Homo sapiens: one gene and its partner. The protein of the gene in region 2 interacts with the protein of the main gene of each other region in a pairwise test. Each region holds a gene or a part of one and is shown on either strand. Other genes may lie near its edges.

Region 1 (3,696 bases), about 23 Mb from region 2:
CATAGCAAGACCCTGTCTCTACACAAAACTTTAAAAATTAGCTGGGCATGGTGGTGCACACCTGTGGACCCAGCTACTTGGGAGGCTGGGCGGGAGGATTGCTTGAACCCAGGAATTCAAGGATGCAGTGAGCTGTGATCACGCCACTGCACTCTAGCCTAAGGGACAGAGCGAGTCCCTACCTCAAAAAAAGGAAAGAAGGCCGGGCGCAGTGGCTCACGCCTGTAATCCCAGCACTTTGGGAGGCTGAGGTGGGTGGATCACTTGAGGTCAGGAATTCAAGACCAGCCTGGCCAACATAGTGACACCCCCATCTCTACTAAAAATACAAAAATTAGCTGGGCATGGTGGCGCATGCCTGTAGTCCCAGCTACTTAGGAGGATGAGGCAGGAGAATTGCTTGAACCTAGGAGGCAGAGGTTGCAGTGAGCCAAGACTGCACTACTGCACTCCAGCCTGGGCGACAGAGCAGGACTCCATCTCAAAAAACAAACCAAAAAAAAAAAAGAAAGAAAAGAGAAGAGGAGAAGGGAGGAGGAAAGAAAGCTGAGTGCCAAAAGCGGTGGCTCACGCTTATAATCCCAGCATGTCGGGAGGCCAAGGTGAGTGGATCACCTGAGGTCAGGAGTTCAAGACCAGCCTGACCAATATGGTGAAACCCCGTCTCTACTAAAAATACAAAAATTAGGCCGGGCACAGTGGCTCACGCCTGTAATCCCAGCACTTTGGGAGGCCGAGGCGGGTGGATCATGAGGTCAGGAGATCGAGACCATCCTGGCAAACACAGTGAAACCCCGTCTCTACTAAAAACACAAAAAAATTAGCCAGGCGTGGTGGCGGGCGCCTGTAGTCCCAGCTACTCGGGAGGCTAAGGCAGGAGAATGGTGTGAACCCAGGGGGCGGAGCTTGCAGCGAGCGGAGATCGTGCCACTGCACTCCAGCCTGGGCGACAGAGTGAGTGAGACTCCGTCTCAAAAAAAAAAAAAAAAAAAAATTAGCTGGGCGTACTGGCAGGCGCTTGTAGTCCCAGCTACGCGGGAGGCTGAGACAGGAGAATCACCTGAACCCGGGAGATGGAGGTTGCAGTGAGCCAAGATTGTGCCACTACACTCCAGTCTGGGTGACAGAGTGAGAGACTCCATCTCAAAAAAAAAAAAAGAAAGAAAGAAAGAGAAAAAGAAAGCTGAGCTTCCTGCTCTGCTGGCCCCAAAGGCCAAGATGCCAGGAGGCTGAGCAAAGGAGAGTGGTCCATGAGCTTGCCCTTCAGGCCTGGCAGAGGAAGTCGCTTCACAATAAGATATTCCATGTCCCCAGACTCAACCATGTCCCAGGAGAGGCCGCTCAGTGTCACTTGCAGGAACACAAGCCCTGGTGACCTGCCCAGCCACACTGCTTGCTTTTCCTCTTCACAGGGGTCACAGGACCAGCTCACAGATGCCTTTCCCTCTCACTGCCAGGTCGCTCTTCTCCCAAAAGATACAAATGAGGAGTCTCCCCAAAGGGCAGCAATTCCTGTCTGGCCTCCCTGCCGCACAGGATGGCCCTCATCAGAGAAGAGTCAATGCTGAGTCTCCACCTCTCCCTCTTATTTCTCAACTCAAGATTTCATCTTTAGCAGGCAGAAAGCCCCTCCTCCTGTCTAGACTGCGTCCCTTCAGTAAGTGCATCGGGCCTGCAGCTCTCAAGTCCTCGGGGGAGATGGAAAAACTGCAACCTCATGCCCTCTTTGTAGTAGTCAGTGGGATGGGGTTCATTCTGTTTTCTTCTCTGTCTCAAGTCCCATTAGCCTTCTCCACGATCAATAATCCCGTTGCCTGGGGTCCCCGCCTGCCCTCAGGGAATCCAGAAGCGCGGTAGTGACAGGTTCAGTACTCCGGCTGCACCATCACATAAAGAGAACCCATTTCCCAGACCCCAAATCCAGGCCCATTCTGGTGTCAGATGTCCAGTTGGCAGAGACACCAGAACCAGGCAGGTCTGGAGAACAATCTGACACCAGCTCCTCCCTAGAGGGCCAAGGCTCTGGCTGACAGGCAGCACACATGACCCCCACCTCCATCACCAGAAAAGCCCTCCCAGCAGCTGCCTATCTCAGGTCTCTTGGGCTTCAGAGCAGAGGACAGCCAGTTCCCCATCAAGAGCAGCCTGGCAGCACTGCCTCGTCAACTCCAGCAGGACATTAGCCCAGGCCTAAATCGGACTCTCGTTTCTCGCCAATCCCCACAGGGCAGCACCCCTTTATCTTGGCATAGCCCCAGCCCCCAGCAAAGCAGGCAACTCCCACTTCCTACACATGAACAAGCCCAGAACAGCCATGGTTCTACCTAACCCAAGCTAGGAGGCAGCACAGCTTTGACCCCTGCCTCCTCTTTCCCTCTCAACCTCCCCCCAACACTCACCACAGCCCTGGCCTTGGGGAGAAGCCGCTTCCACCGGAAACTAAAAATCAAGCCACTGGGGAGATTTAAGTGGGCTGGTGGCCAGGACAGGTATCACCCCCACCTACAAAACCTGCCCTACATTCACCACTCACACATGCCTTCATGGGCCCTTCTGAATTCTCTTCTCCCCAGTCAGGCAGAGGCTCTCAAAAGGGGGTGCAGAAAAATCCTTTCCGCTCACACCTGTAATCCCAGCACTTTGGGAGGCTGAGGCGGGCGGATCTCCTGAAGGTCAGGAGTTCGAGACCATCCTGACCAACATGGTGAAACCCCATCTCTACTAAAAATACAAAAATTAGCCTAGTGTGGTGGTGCATGCCTGTAATCCCAGCTACTCGGGAGGCTGAGACAGGAGAATCGCTTGAACCCAGGAGGTAGACGTTACAGTGAGCCGAGATCGCGCCACTGCACTCCAGCCTGGGTGGCAGAGCGTGACTCCATCTCAAAAAAAAAAAAAAAATCCTTTCCAGAGCTGCATGGGGCAATACAGCAGGATGGGTTCTGGGCTTGGAATCAGAGGACCCAAACGTCAGTCTTGGTGCTGCTTGGGTCTCGCTGTACAACATTGGGGAAATTACTTAAGTTCCTTGAGTTTCAATTTCCTCCTCTGTAGAATGCGAATAATGATACGCGTTTTTTTTGTTTTTTTTTTTTTTTTGAGTCAGGGACTCACTCTGTTGCCCAGGCTGGAATACAGTGACACAGCTCACTGCAGCCTTGACTTCCCTGGGCTCAGGTAATCCTCCCACCTCAACATTCCCAGTAGCTGGGACCACAGGCATGCACCACCACGCCCGGCTAATTTTTCTATTTTTTTGTAGAGACAGGGTTTCTCCATGTTGCCCAGGCTGGTCTGGAACTCCTGGGCTCAATCAAGCAGTCCACCCTTCTGGGCCTCCTAACGTGCTGGGATTGCAGGTCTGAGCCATCCAGCCTGGCCAGCCATAAGGATTAAGTAAAAATAGTTAATGAAAGTGCTTGGTTTGGGCCAGGTGAGGTGGCTCACGCCTGTAATCCCAGCACTTTGGGAGGCCGGGGCGGGCGAATCACGAGGTCAGGAGATCAAGACCAGCCTGCGCAACATGGTGAAACCCTGTCTCTACTAAAAATACAAAAATCAGCCGGGGGTGGTGGCACACGCCTGTAATCCTGGCTACTCAGGAGGCTGAGGCAGGAGAATCACTTGAACCCAGGAGGCGGAGGTTGCAGTGAGCCTGGGTGACAGAGCGAGACTCCATCTCAAAAAAAAAAAAAA
Region 2 (3,725 bases):
CCCAAATATTTTCCAGCCTCCTTTACTGAACCTTGGCCCTGCTTTGGTGCATATCTAGTATATGGACTTTGCATAAGCACCCACTACTTCTCTCGCTTTTTTTTTTTTTAGATGGAGTTTCGCTCTTGTTGCTCAGGCTGGAGTGCAATGGCGCAACTTGGCTCAGTGCAACCTCTGCTTCCTGGGTTCAAGCAATTCTCCTGCCTCAGCCTCCCGAGTGGCTGGGATTATAGGCGCACGCCACCATGCCCAGCTAATTTTTGTATTTTTAGTAGAGATGGGGTTTCACCATGTTGGCCAGGCTGGTCTTGAACTCCTGGCCTCAATGATTCACCGGCCTTGGCCTCCTAAAGTGCTGGGATTACAGGCATGAGCCACCGCACCTGGCCCCCTACTTCTCTTATTGTTCCCACAGTCCCTGGGCGTGAAAGAATGCCCCAAGCCCACATGATTTCTTCTCACAGCACAGCAACTTACCTATCACCTTCACCCTCAGAACCTCACTTAACATTTTGGCATGGGAATGGCAATTATCTGCAACACACTGGTATTCGACGTCTTCAGTGGGGTTGTCTTTGAATACCGCAGGATCATTTGAGTTCTTGGTACTATTCTCCAAAACTTTACTTGTTTTTAAAAGTTGGTAAGAAATAGGCAAAGTTCCACTGATCGATTCGCAACGGACTTCGATGGTCTGTCCTTTTATGACCTCAAACTGGGCATCATAAGAAATCCTGGGCTGGGAGAGCATTTCTAGAACAGAGGGAGAAACAATCCAAAAGGCACTGAAGGTAAAAGCAAAGCATCCAGCACAAGAGGTTCCTCCTCCAAAGCCTGAGCTTTGCTTTCTATCCCTGCTGTAATTTCAAATGCCTGCCTGCCTTATTTACCTTTATAGGACACCTATGAGACTGACAGGCTGTGTGTGTGTGTGTGTGTGTGTGTGTGTGTGTGTGGTGAGAAGGGAAAGGGAAAGAGAAGTACAATAAGCAAAACAGAGAATGACAGAAATTCAAGGAAAACATTACATCCCCAGAAATACATGTTCATATTTTACCATATCTCACACGCACATGCACACATAATATACTTTTCTTGTGTTGAGCAAAGACACAGAAAACATAGAAAAAGTACAACAAGTAGCCAACAAAATGTGTGTGTGTGTGTGTGTGTGTGTGTGTGTATTTGAGACAGGGTCTCACTCTATTACCCAGGCTGGAGTGCACTGGTGCGATGACAGCTCACTACAACCTCCCAGAATCAAGCAATCCTCCTACCTCAGCCTCCCGAGTAGCTGGGACTATAGGTGCACACCACACCTGGCTAATTCTTTATTTTTTGTAGAGACAGGGTCTCACTATGTGCTCAGGCTGGTCTTGAACTCCTGGACTCAAGTGATCCTCCCACATCAGCTGCCCAAAGTGCTGGGATTATAAGTATGAGCCACCACACCTGGCTGAGCATATATGTGTGTGTGTGTGTGTGTGTGTGTGTGTGTTCTGAGACCGAGTCTTGCTCTGTCACCCAGGCTGGAGTGCAATGGCGCAATCTCAGCTGACCACAACCTCCACCTCCTGGGTCCAAGGGATTCTCCTGCCTCAGCCTCCCGAGTAGCTGGGATTACAGGCATGTGCCACCACACCCGGCTAACTTTTGTATTTTTAGTAGAGAGGGGGTTTCACCATGTTGGCCAGGCTGGCCTCAAACTCCTGACCTCAGGTGATCCACCCACCTTGGCCTGCCAAATTGTTGGGATTACAGGTGTGAGCCACCAGGTCCAGCCAATATATATGTTTTTAAATTATTCTCAGCCAGTCACGGTGGCTCATGCCTGTAATCCCAGCACTTTGGGAGGCCGAGGTGGGCAGATCACCTGAGGTCAGGACTTTAAGACCAGCCTGACCAATGTAGAGAAACCCCGTCTCTACTGAAAATACAAAATTAGCTGGGCAAGGTGGCACATGCCTGTAATCCTAGCTACTCGGGAGGCTGAGGCAGGAGAATCGCTTGAACCCGGGAGGCAGAGGTTGCAGTGAGCCGAGATCATGTCATTGCACTCCAGCCTGGGTAACAAGAGCAAAACTCCATCTCAAAAAAAAAAAAAAAAAAAAAAGATAAAAAAAGTCTTCTTAGTGCTTCAGCCTCTTAACAGATAAGAATTATATTAGGTCATTATTTAGGCATTAGTTTATTTAAACCTTATACAATGAGATTTCCTCCTCCCAAGAACAAAAAATAAAATAAAACGTTATAACACACATTTGTCTCTTGCATTCCTGCCTTTTGAGTTAGGTGGTTAGAGCATTAAAAATAGGCTAAAATCCTGGTTCAGTTGAAGCTATAATAAAATCTTAGCTGGATAAAACACAGCCACAGGTTAAATGAAAGGATCGTGACTGAATAATATAGTGACAGTGACAACTTGACTGGAGTTCTATAATCAACCAGAATCTCGCCACCCAAAGTGTGGTCCAGAGACCAACAGCATCCACATCACCAAAATGCTAGTTAGAGATGCAGAACCTGGCCCCATCTGGGCCTAAAATACTGAATCATAACCTGTATTTTAACCAGGTCTTGCATGCACATTCAGGCCTGAGAAGCCCAGCTCCTGGTGGTCAAATACCTACATTCTGTCCACTGGAAGTCTTACCCTTTTGGGTTAGCCAGGATACAGATTTAAAAAATGGAATTTTGATATTCTTGGCCGGGTGTGGTGGCTCAGGCCTGTAATCCCAGGACTTTGGGAGGCTGAGGCAGGCAGATCACGAGGTCAGGAGATGGAGACCATCCTGGCTAACACGGTGAAACCCCATCTCTACTAAAAATACAAAAAAATATTATCCGGGCGTGGTTGCGGGTGCCTGTAGTCCCAGCTACTTGGGAGGCTGAGGCAGGAGAATGGCGTGAACCCAGGAGGCGGAGCTTGCAGTGAGCCCAGATTGTGCCACTGCACTCCAGCCTGGGTGACAGAGCGAGACTGCATCTCAAAAAAATAAATAAATAAATAAATAAAAGTAATAAAAATAAAAATACAAAAATTAGGCAGACATGGTGGTGGGCACCTGTAATCCCAGCTACTTGGGAGGCTGAGGCAGGAGATCACTTGAACCTAGGAGGCAGAGGTTGCAGTGAGCTATCGTGCCACTGCACTCTAGCCTGGGCGACACGTCTCAAAAAAAAAAAAAAGAAAAGTTTAACATTGACTAAGTAGTGTTTCCTTCCTGAACTTTTGGGTGGGTACTTGCTCCAGGAGGCAGAATCTTGCCAGAATCTTAGCAAGTCAGAGGCCACATCATCATCAGTGAATCAGTGTTCTGAGCAGGAATACCTCCTTGTTTCTTTGGCCTTTGATTTCGCACTTCTCTCCCTCTAGTTCTTACCCTGCCTGAGTCTGCTCAGACCGGAGAGGGCGGCAGCTGCAGATAAATTTCCTTTCTCCCATTCAACCCTGGATGTCCTCTGAGTCAGCAACAATATACTCACCACATACGACTATCTGGACTGTGTTGCTTTTCTTGACCACTTTGTCAATACCTGCAGTGCAGATATACGTCCCACTGTCCGACTTTGAGGCTATCTTGGTGAAATCTTGAGTCTGTGACACAATCGTATCTTCCTTCTGGATGGTGAAGTTGGCTGGAGGTGCTCCTGGGATGGAGCAGGACAGGTTCAGTCTTTCACCTTGGTCCAGATGTGTGAAGGAAGATTCCAGTTCGGGCTTG

Evidence for each region. The genes of interacting proteins can lie anywhere in the genome.
Region 1: the proteins of PECAM1 (region 2) and JUP interact in binary tests that used the Homo sapiens proteins (3 or more experiments, as listed by UniProt).

What each region holds. Positions count from the first base shown.
Region 1 is NC_000017.11:41,780,212-41,783,907, forward strand, and holds part of JUP (junction plakoglobin), read right to left. Parts: intron 1-3,696. UniProt on the Homo sapiens protein: Common junctional plaque protein. The membrane-associated plaques are architectural elements in an important strategic position to influence the arrangement and function of both the cytoskeleton and the cells within the tissue.
Region 2 is NC_000017.11:64,359,663-64,363,387, forward strand, and holds part of PECAM1 (platelet endothelial cell adhesion molecule precursor), read right to left. Parts: coding exon 3,487-3,725; intron 754-3,486; coding exon 478-753; intron 1-477. UniProt on the Homo sapiens protein: Cell adhesion molecule which is required for leukocyte transendothelial migration (TEM) under most inflammatory conditions.